Homo sapiens: one gene and its partners. The protein of the gene in region 3 purifies or fractionates together with the protein of the main gene of each other region. This does not show direct contact. Each region holds a gene or a part of one and is shown on either strand. Other genes may lie near its edges. The genes, in order: CEP43, PPP2R3C and RABL2B.

Region 1 (3,654 bases), on a different chromosome or scaffold from region 3:
TCCAGTTTTTGAGTATTACAAATAAGGTTTCTGTGAACAGTCACATACAAGTCTTTGCTTGGATCTGTGATTTCTCTTGAGAAAATATGTAGAGGTGAAGTGACTAGGTCACATGCTAGGAATATTTGTGACTTTTAAGAAACACTACCAAATTGCTGTCCAAACTCGTTATGCCATTTTGCATTCCCATCAGCAGTGTATGAGGCTGCCACTGTAGCAGCAATTAATGTGGTCTTAAGGAAGCTTACCATGTGCTACCTACTGTAGCCTCTTCTCAGCAACAATCACAGGCTTGATGGTCTAGAAGTATTTTTTCCATACTTATTCAAATAAATGTATAATTACAAAAATAAGTTGGCCTATGGGCCGCATAAGATCATCTCACATTTCATGGATAAACTGGGAATTACAAGTGTATAATTAAATTCCTGTTCATAGTAAGTATGCTATAAATGGTAGATACCTGAGATGACAAAACTTTTATCAAACTTCATGTATTTGAAATAATAAACAGTTGTTGACATTTAATTGTATTTCACACAGGTATTTGAAAATATCTAGCTTCAAAAGCAGTTTATAAAACATTTAAAAATTAAAAATACAAATCTTCATATATGGTTTTGTTATATTAACTTTGAGAAATTACTAAATAGCACAAAGTAAGTCCTGTAGTAATTAACAGTTGTAGAATGGATTTTGTAAAACCATAATTTTATCAATGAAAACGTTAAACTTTATATTTTGTAGTTGTTTTTAGGGTAAACACATGACACTTAAATTTTTTTTTTTTTAACAGAACAAAACTCCTTTAGTTAATGAGAGCCTGAAAAAGTTTTTAAATACCAAAGACGGTAAGATGTTCAGTTTGTTCTTGTTTATCTATCTCTGAATTTTTGAATCTTGATACCATTTGGGAGAAATCAGGAATTTCAGGGCTTTTTTTTTGTCTTCAATTGTTATAGGTCCTCATTTTAAAATAATATTTTATTGTACAACAATCGTGTTGCTATTACATATTTTTGGATTTGGGATGTTGTTGCTTAAAGCCAGTTTTACTACAAAAAGCCAATATTAACCATTAAAAAGCGAAACACTGAAATCTATGAGATGATTGTCTTACAGTTAGTTACAGACTGATGATCCCAGTGAAAAAATCAGGAGATTGAGATTTTCATTACTTAATCATATTATTCAAAGAGGAAATTTGTAACTTAAAAAATTTAGAAACCTTTCTTCCATTAATTTAGTGTATCTATTTCATAATGTTAATTTAAAAAATTCAGTTTTTGAAGATTTGCTTACTTACCTTTTTCTTGATCTTTATAGGTCGTTTAGTGGCTAGTCTTGTTGCAGAATTTCTTCAGTTTTTTAACCTTGACTTTACTTTGGCTGTTTTTCAACCTGAAACTAGCACAGTAAGAATAATGATTTTTACATCTATCTTTTGAAACCTTTGATACAAATGAGTTAATATTAAGCTGAAAGTTAATAGAATTTGACAACTGATAGTTTTTTACATTTAGATTATTTTTGGTAGTTGATTATCTGTTTTTCTTAAAAGCCATATGAGCTTTCAGATAGCTGGCACCAGTGTTGCTGCTTTGTGTTACTTGAAAGCTTGCTAATAAAAGTGTTACTATAGAGTTAATTTTGATACGATGTTAGAGTGCACCTGTTAATGGAAACGTTGAAGGTAGAGGCTCTGTAAAAGAAATAGGCATAATTTTTTAAAATAGACATTTCATTCATTAGTAAGACAGTCTCTTTGAGTTTAAAGATGTCTTTAAACTCTGAAAATATCTTCTTTACTCCTTGAGAATAACTTCTGCTATTTTTTTGTGCACTTGTATTTTAACTTCTTTTCTAGCTGCAAGGTCTCGAAGGTCGAGAGAATTTAGCCCGAGATTTAGGTATAATTGAAGCAGAAGGTACTGTGGGTGGACCCTTATTATTAGAAGTGATCAGGCGCTGTCAACAGAAAGAAAAAGGGCCAACCACTGGGGAAGTAAGTAGAATTCTGTGTTATCTTTTTCTATTTTAATTATTGGCTGCTTAGTTTAGCCATGCAGATTAGTGCATATATAGTAAATTAAGGTTTTCATACTAGAAGATATTCCTTAAAAACAAAATGAGATGCATTCAGATTGTATCAATGCAAATTTTAATGAAAATTAGGAATGTGCTGACTGTGATTCTGTGGCATATCTGTTCTGGTTTTTGATCCTCAAGAGTGTTGGGTCATGAGCTAAACTGTCTGGAACAAATCCCAACTCCTCGTTGCCTCACTTGATCCTCCATTCATTCCATACTGTGTATGAAGTGGGCTCTACCAGGCCCTACCTTGGTGTTCTGAGGCTTCTCTGCATAAGCCAACAGAAGCACTCAACTTGCTATTATTTTTATTAAAACATCTTATTTAAATATAAAAGGGCTGATTTATAGGATAGTTAATAAATTTTTGGACTTAAAGGCCTCTTTAGGCTTAAAACTAAGCTGTTGATTTTGCTTTACGCTGTTTAGAAACAGTTCAAACTTACACTTTTTTGATCAGTAGTACTTTTCATACTCTTAACCTTTTTTTAGAAATTGTGCTAATGAGATTAATGATATAATTTTATTTTCATACATTAATTTTACATGAAGATACTCTGTTTTATAGATACAGGTAACATCTGTAACTGTTCCAGATATTTGATTAAATGTGAGCTTTTAGTCAGAAATTTATAGGTAAGAATGTGGAGGGCTGTATAGGTTTCCAGTTATTTTCTTTGGTGAGTCTCAGAGGATGTTTTCTATTAGAATTTTTGAAAATTGATAAAGCTTGCCTGAGTACTAATTATGTGTAAGGCATGGTAAATAGACTTTGTGGGTACTATAAGATAAAATATAAGAAACTTCTGTGTCTCTGAATAGCGCAGAGCTATTTAAGATAAAATGTGCTCAAATAAGGAAATTAACATTTAAATAACAGTTTAAGATTATGGAGGAATTGTCATTTAACACATTATTTCCAACCATATTATGAATAGTTTAGAGGAGGAAGCGATTGTCACATGCCAAAATTTTATTGAAGTCAATTTTAAAGTGAGAGTAGGATGTCAGTTGTGGGGCGAGGATTGGGAAGGGCTTTCCGAGAAGTTGGAACGGTGCCAGCCAAGCGTGGGAGCAGGAGAGCATAGCCAGATCCCAGGCTGGCTGGGAGTGAGGCGGCTCACCCAGAGCGCAGGTTGTCACTTCAGCTTGTGCATATAATTTCATTCCTTCATTTATCAATATCCAGCAAGCTTTTATTGTGCGCTTATTTGATAGATACTGTGCTGGGTACTGGGCAATCAAAAACAAACTAAAGAACCCAGTCTCCTGGGGCCAGCAGTCTGTAGGTCATGATGACCTCTCTTTATTGGCTTTCCCCTCTCGGCTTCTGTGGCCCTGAAGAACTCTCTTCTCTTTCTAACTGCCCTTTCATTTTCTTTTCTGTTTAGTAGTTGTGCTTTGGCTCACCTCATTGCAGTGGTGTTTATGCATATTTTTCTGTCTAGATTGATCTTTCTTCCTTAACATACCACTAGCATGGACTCTGGAACCAGGTTACTTGGGTGAAACCCCAGCTCTGCTACATTCTAGCTCTGTGAGCCTGCAGTCACTCAGCCTCCG
Region 2 (3,654 bases), on a different chromosome or scaffold from region 3:
GGGATTACAGGCATCTGCTACCATGCTCAGCTAATGTTTTTGTATTTTTAATAGAGACAGGGTTTCACCATGTTGATCAGGCTGGTCTCGAAGTCCTGACATCAAGTGATCCACTCGCCTTCACCTCCCAAAGTGCTGGGATTACAGGCGTGAGCTACCGTGTCTGGCTTCTCTTATATTTTCTTAAAAAAAAAAAAGCGGGGGGGTGGAATTCTTGGCCCTTTAAAAAATAGTGACACATTAATATCACTCATGAATAATCAAACGTTTTTCAGTGATTTTTAAATGTTAAAATGCTACATTCTTTTTATTTTCCCCTTTAAAAGGCTTTTTTTTTTGAGACAGTCCGCTCTTGTCACCCAGGCTGGAGTGCAATGGCACAATCTAGGCTCACTGCAACCTCCACCTCCTGGGTTCAAGCGATTCTCTTGTCTCAGCCTCCTGAGTAGCTGGGATTACAGGTGGCCACCACCATGCCTGGCTAATTTTTGTATTTTTAGTAGAGACGGGGTTTCTCCATGTTGGTCAGGCTGGTCTTGAACTCCTGACCTCAAGATCTGCCCACCTCGGCCTCCCAAAATGCTGGGATTATAGGCATGAGCCACCGCGCCCAGCCAAAAGGCCTTTTTTTTTTAAAGTTTGAAGAAAAAGAATCTAAAAAGGAATTTGTATAGTCAATATACATTAAACATTTGTTTAGTAACACATGTCATTTGTTAAAAAAAATAAAAATAAAAAACCAAACCCCAAAACGGAAACATCCTGTGTCTCAACAAAAACTATATGGAATCAACACCACCGAGGTCTATGGAAAAAAAAAGAAAAACCTGTTCCCTTTGCTCTGCTGGAAGCTGGAAGGTGCTAGGCCCTTGTGTAGTCGTGCATAGAATTCTAGCTGCTTTCCTCTATTGAGCGCAGAGTATACTATGTCTCTATGTGAATATGGACAGTTAGCATTTACCAACATCTCCTTGTCTACTGTGTCTTTTTTTTTTTGAGATGGAGTCTCGCTCTTTCGCCCAGGTTGGAGTGCAGTGGCGTGATCTCGGCTCACTGCAAGCTCCGCCTCCTGGGTTCATGCCATTCTCCTGCCTCAGCCTCCCAAGTAGCTGGAACTACAGGTGCCTGCCACCACGCCCGGCTAATTTTTTTTTGTATTTTTAGTAGAGATGGGGTTTCACCGTGTTAGCCAGAATGGTCTCGATCTCCTGACCTCGTGATCCGCCCGCCTCGGCCTCCCAAAGTGCTGGGATTACAGGCGTGAGCCACCACGCCCGGCATCCTTGTCTACTGTCTCTTATTTAAAAAAAGAAAATAAATTTTACAAAATGGGGTTATAGGTCAGCAAAGGGTAGGTTTGAAACGTTTTGATAGTTTAAAGTGAGCATTTTGACAACGTTGCTTTTCCTTTGGCATGTTTAATTGTGATTTTTAAGGGGCATCCTTGCAGTTTAAAATGACACCTTTAAAATAAATTCTCTCTCTCTTTTTTTTTGAGACAGGGTCTCCCTCTGTTGCCCAGGCTGGAGTGCAGTGGTGCAATCTCGGCTCACTGCAACCTCTGCCTCCCAGATTCAAGCGATTCTCCCACCTCAGCCCCTTGAATAGCTGGGATTACAGGTATGCACCACCACAGCCCAGCAAATTTTTCTATTTTTAGTAGAGATGGAATTTCACCATATTGGTCAGGCTGGTCTCAAACTCCTGACCTCAGGTGACCCGCCCACGTCAGCCTCCCAAAGTGCTGGGAGTACAGGCCTTGGGAATACAGGCGTGAGCCACTGCACCCAGCCAATACATTTTTTTTTTTTTTTTTTTTTGAGACGGAGTTTCACTCTTGTTGCCCAGGCTGGAGTGCAATGGCGCTATCTCGGTTCACAGCAACCTCTGCCTCCTGGGTTCAAGTGATTCTCCTGCCTCAGCCTTCCAAGTAGCTGGGATTACAGGTATGTGCCACCAAGCCTGGCTAATTTTGTATTTTTAGTAGAGATAGGGTTTCTCCATGTTGGTCAGGCTGGTCTCAAACTCCCGACCTCAGGTGATCCGCCTGCCTCATCCTTCCAAAGTGCTGGGATTACAGGTGTGAGCTACCACACCCAGCATAAATTCTCTCTTAATGATGACTTGAAGGCTGCTACTCCATGGGAGAATCAGTAGAACCTGTAGGATCTTATTTGGAATTGACATTCTCTATTGTAATTTTGTTTATTTTAAATTTGTTTTTTGTTTCACTGGAAAGATGATGTTCAATTTTAAAAGTTGAAAGTGTACAAGTTGCTTTGTTACAGTAAAACTAAATATGTACACACAAACACACACAGACAGAAATAAAACAAAGTATTATGAGAACAGCCTGTAATCCCAACACCCAGTGATAACTACAGTTTACATTTTAGTGTCTATAAGAGTTAATATAATATCTATAAGGTTAACACTTACAGATTCCCGAAGGTACCCCTGCCCAGCGACATCATATAAACTGAGTCCTATTCTTGTTTGATGAAGCCAAACTGACAATAAACAAGAAAATGAAAGTAATTCTTAAGATCTATCCTTCAGATATGAAAAAGGAGATAAAGAGCCAGATTTGAGACAAGCTAATCTAGTAACTCTAAAAACATTTCTTCTCACCACAAAATTGCTTGAAACAAAAAACCATAGAATGGAAGAGTTCAACAATTCTACCATGACTAAAGCTATAATAAAATTGACACCTTGAAGATACTGTTCTTTACCAATTAAACTTGGTGTTCCACCAAACAGGGACAGCTAGTATAATATTATGCCTTCAGTGAAGCTGCTTTTATTTCTGAGGTTAATTACAGCAACCAATTATTAAAGATTGTATACAATAGGCTTTCACAGATTATTATGGCACTTGTAGGAATCATAAGTCCAAGCTGTTTAATTGATGCTCCTTGAAACTGATATTACAGCTTTGGGTTTGAAACTATCAGTCAACTCAACTTGTAATATACTGGTAAAATAAAATTATCAGTAAATTAAAATTATTTCAAATTACCATACATTAAAACTCTTGGTTCAGCTCTTAATATTTCTAGTCTACTATTATCTTTAAGACACATGAGGGTTTAAAAAATTTTTGTTTTTTTATGCTAACCCAAGTTTATGTAACACATCTTGGTCAAAAGATAAGAAATTCTACTATTCAAACTTAGAGTGATTTCACATAGAAGAAATACTTATAAAAGCACAGACCAAAAACCTACTTGATTCCCAGATAAGGAGTTCAAGCACAGTAAAAATGAATCACCTTTTCTCATGACATAATTAAAGAACTGCATGATGGAAATTCTTCCATATGAATCTGTATGAAGGAGTTTAGCAAAGACTTTTGCTGTGAAAAATTGCCTAAGAAAAGAAAATAAAGATTTAAATGATCTGCCAACATAAAAGAAAATGACTTCTACATAAATTAGCAAACAATGGCATAAATTCATACAATTAAAAATGAAAGAACAATAGAGACTCCTTATAATTCAAAAACTTAAAATATTAAGTCAAACTTTTTTTTTTTTTTAAAAGAAATGGAGATTTGGCCAGGCGCAGTGGCTCTTGCCTGTAATCCCAGCACTTTGGGAGGCTGAGGCAGGCACATCATGAGTCAAGAGATCGAGACCATTTTGGCCAACA
Region 3 (3,469 bases):
TTGAGACCAGCCTGGCCAACATGGTGAAATTCCGTCTCTACTAAAAATGCAAAAAATTAGCTGGGCCTGGTGGCGCATGCCTGTAATCTCAGCTACTTGGGAGGCTGAGGCAGGAGAATTGCTTGAACTAGGGAGACAGAGGTTGCAGCGAGCCCAGATCATGCCATTGCACTCCAGCCTGGGCAACAAGAGCAAAACTCTGTCTGAAATAAACAAATAAATAACGTATTCCTTTTTTGTTATCTTGTCATCTAATCTTATTCACCTATTTTAACAATCATAAATGGAATCAATTTGCCAATTGATGCAGTCTGTTAGAAATTGTAAAAACTTTTGTGTTTTTTAGTCCTCTTGTATTTATTGCTTAAACTGTTTTAAAGTTCCTCTGTAGTAACCGTAAATGTTTCTAGAGTTTTACTTTAGTTACTATTTACTTTTATTTATTTATTTACTTTTTAGAGACAGGGTTTCACTGTCACCCAGGCTAGAATGCAGTGGCTCAATCACAGCTCACTGTAACCTCAAAACTCCTGGGCTCAAGGAATCCTCCTACCTCAGCCTCCCAAGTAGCACGCACGCATTAATTTTTATTTTTTTATTTTTTTTTTTTTGTAGAGGCAGGCTCTCCCTATGTTACCCAGGCTCATCTCAAACTCTTGGCCTCAAGGGATCCTCCCACCTGGGCCTCTAAAGGTGCTGGGGTTACAAGTGTTAGCCATCACAACTGCCCCTGATTTTTTTTTTTTTTTTAGACGGAGTCTCACTCTGTTACCCAGGCTGGAGTGTGGTGGCATAATCTCAGCTCACTGCAACCTTTGCCTTCTGTGTTCAAGTGATTCTCTTGTCTCGGCCTCCTCAGTAGCTGGGACTACAGGTGTGCGCCACCATGCCTGGCTAATTTTTTTATTTTTAGTAGAGACAGGGTTTTGCCATGTTGGCCAGGCTGGTCTCGAACTCTTGATCTCAAGGGATCTCCATATATGGAGTCTTGCTCTGTTGCCCAGGCTGGAGTGCAGTGGCGCTATCTTGGCTCACTGCCACTGCAACCTCCACTTCCTAGGTTCAAGTGATTCTCTTGTCTCAGCCTCCGGAGTAGCTGGGATTACAGGTGCGCACCACCATGCCTGGCTAATTTTTGTAGTTTTAGTAGAGACAGGGTTTCATCATGTTGGCCAGGCTGGTCTCAAACTCTTGACCTGCAGTGATCTGCCTGCCTAGGCCTCCCAAAGTACTGGGATTACAGGCATGAGCTACTGCACCTGGCTGATTTACTTTTAAGCTTCTGTTTACTTCTTTGTTCTTTCTGCTTTTTGTTTTTTGAGATAGGGTCTTACTCTGTCAGCCAGGCTGGAGTGCAGTGGCAGAATCTTGGCTTACTGCTCCTCCACCCCCTGGGCTCCGGTGATCCTACCTCAGCCTCCTGAGTAGCTGGAACTACAGGCACATGCCACCATGCCTGGCTAATTTTGTTTATTTTTTGTAGAGATAAGCTCTCATTATATTAACGAGGCTGGTCTTGGACTCCCGGTCTCAAGTGATCCTCCTGCCTCGGCCTCCCAAATTTCTGGGATTACAGGCATAAGCCACTGTGCCCGGCCTCTTTAAATTTTTTTAAAGTAATTTTTATGTTTTATTATTTGCAGTTCATAATTGTATTACTTTATAATTTGTTTTTACCTATTTTATTTTTATTTATTTATGTATTTATTTTGAGATGGAGTCTTGCTCTGTTGCCCAGGCTAGAGTGCAGTGGCGGTATCTTGGCTCACTGCCACTGCAACCTCCACCTCCTGGGTTCAAACGATTCTCCTGTCTTCAAATGATTCTCCTGTCTCAGCCTCCTGAGTAGCTGGATTACAGGTGCGCACCACCACGCCTGGCTAATTTTTGTATTTCTAGTAGAGACGGGGTTTCAACATGTTGGTCAGGCTGGTCTCGAACTCCTGACCTCAGGTGATCTGCCCGCCTAGGCCTCCCAAAGTACTGGGATTAAAGGCATGAGTCACCGCGCCCAGCCTGTTTCTACCTATTTTAAAATATCAGCAAGAAGGATGAGCACTGCAAACCAGCTCTTAAGGGCAGAACTCTGAAAGACAACTGAGCTGCTGCTACAGTGAGCCTTCATGCCCTTCACAGGAGCTCCTCCAAAGTGTCTAGCCCAAACTGCCCTAGTACAACAGTCAGTGGATTAAAGTTACAGACAACCACCACCCTGTAACCGCTGGCACAGCTGACCTCACTTCTAAATCACCCAGCTATTTGTGCAAGCAACACGGTTCAAGCTCAGGGCTAGGGGCTCGCCCTGTGTGGTGGCGGGAGGGTCAGCAACTGTCACATCTCAAGAGGTGGCAGGAAGTCTATGTAGATTCTCTTTCACAGGCAAATTTCAATGAATCACCAGGTTGTCTTGAATTCCCGATGAAGACTCCTTATAAAGGATGTCTGTAACTAAACTTCTGGAATCTGCCTCACACCAGGCTCAGATGCCTTTTGTCCAGGTCTGGTTTCCTGAGCATCTGTTCCTTGTTTTGAGAGCTGAGGAGGAGCTGGCTAGAATGAGGAGCATCCCCATCTCAAGGTTTCAAGGTGGAGGGTCGAGCCCTGGTTCCGTCTCTGACCCTCAGCTCCCCGTGTGGTCAGAAGGCAAGTGCTTTCTACTCGCCAGGGCCCGTGCAGCAGACTGGGGCTGGTGGCAGGCACCTGCAGACACAGGCATGGTGGCAGGAGAGACACCCCAGGCCTTCAGAAGAGGGTCTGAGGGGAGCCCACGGAGATGCAGCAGATGCAGGAAGCAGTCACTCCAAGAGAAAAAGAGAGGTGAGCTCAAAATACCAAATGCCACTGTAGGCCTGAAACCAAACTGGCTAGGACCAAGCTCCTCTGCTCTTGAGGGTCAGACTTCTGCACTACACTGCCCCCATTTTCCTTGCCCCATCATCCTCTTGTTTAGTGCCTTAACAGTTATCAGAGTTAAAGCTTTTGGAATTTTTCAAGGGATTTTGTTCTCAAGGGGCAGTCGGGGGAATTAGGTGATGAGTTCCTTCCTTTACCATCTGCAAAGGGTCAGAAGGGAAGAATCCTCACTGTCCTCACCACTGGTATCTGTACTGTGCCTACCAGTCAGTCAGTTCCTGGGGGCAGCACGTGTGTCTTTCCACCTGGGCACTCCCAGCATCCTGCACACGTGCATCACAGACAGTCCATGTTGTGGAAGGGATCAGTGGTGCAGGAGCACACACGAAAGAGCTAAGCTAATGACAAACATCAGAGGAGGCTGCACGGAGGTGGTGGCATTGAAGCAGGGCCTGAAAAATGAGCAGAGTTTCAAATAAAGGGGTGTGAGCTGGGGAGAGGCTGAGGGAAGAGCATGAAGGAAGGTGTGCAGAGGAGCAGGTGACAATGAGCAGAACAGAGCAGCTCCTTCTGCATCCCCTCTGCTATTGCTTCTTACAGATGAGATGACACCTGC

What was found.
Region 1: the proteins of RABL2B (region 3) and CEP43 purify together in Homo sapiens (affinity purification with mass spectrometry; one large-scale study listed by BioGRID and IntAct). This does not show direct contact.
Region 2: the proteins of RABL2B (region 3) and PPP2R3C purify together in Homo sapiens (affinity purification with mass spectrometry; one large-scale study listed by BioGRID and IntAct). This does not show direct contact.

The regions. Positions count from the first base shown.
Region 1 is NC_000006.12:167,002,397-167,006,050, forward strand, and holds part of CEP43 (centrosomal protein 43), read left to right. Parts: intron 1-796; coding exon 797-851; intron 852-1,326; coding exon 1,327-1,415; intron 1,416-1,867; coding exon 1,868-2,005; intron 2,006-3,654. UniProt on the Homo sapiens protein: Required for anchoring microtubules to the centrosomes. Required for ciliation.
Region 2 is NC_000014.9:35,104,865-35,108,518, forward strand, and holds part of PPP2R3C (serine/threonine-protein phosphatase 2A regulatory subunit B'' subunit gamma), read right to left. Parts: intron 3,373-3,654; coding exon 3,275-3,372; intron 2,511-3,274; coding exon 2,440-2,510; intron 1-2,439. UniProt on the Homo sapiens protein: May regulate MCM3AP phosphorylation through phosphatase recruitment. May act as a negative regulator of ABCB1 expression and function through the dephosphorylation of ABCB1 by TFPI2/PPP2R3C complex.
Region 3 is NC_000022.11:50,770,312-50,773,780, forward strand, and holds part of RABL2B (rab-like protein 2B), read right to left. Parts: intron 1-3,469. UniProt on the Homo sapiens protein: Small GTPase required for ciliation. Activated in a guanine nucleotide exchange factor (GEF)-independent manner via its intrinsic GDP for GTP nucleotide exchange ability.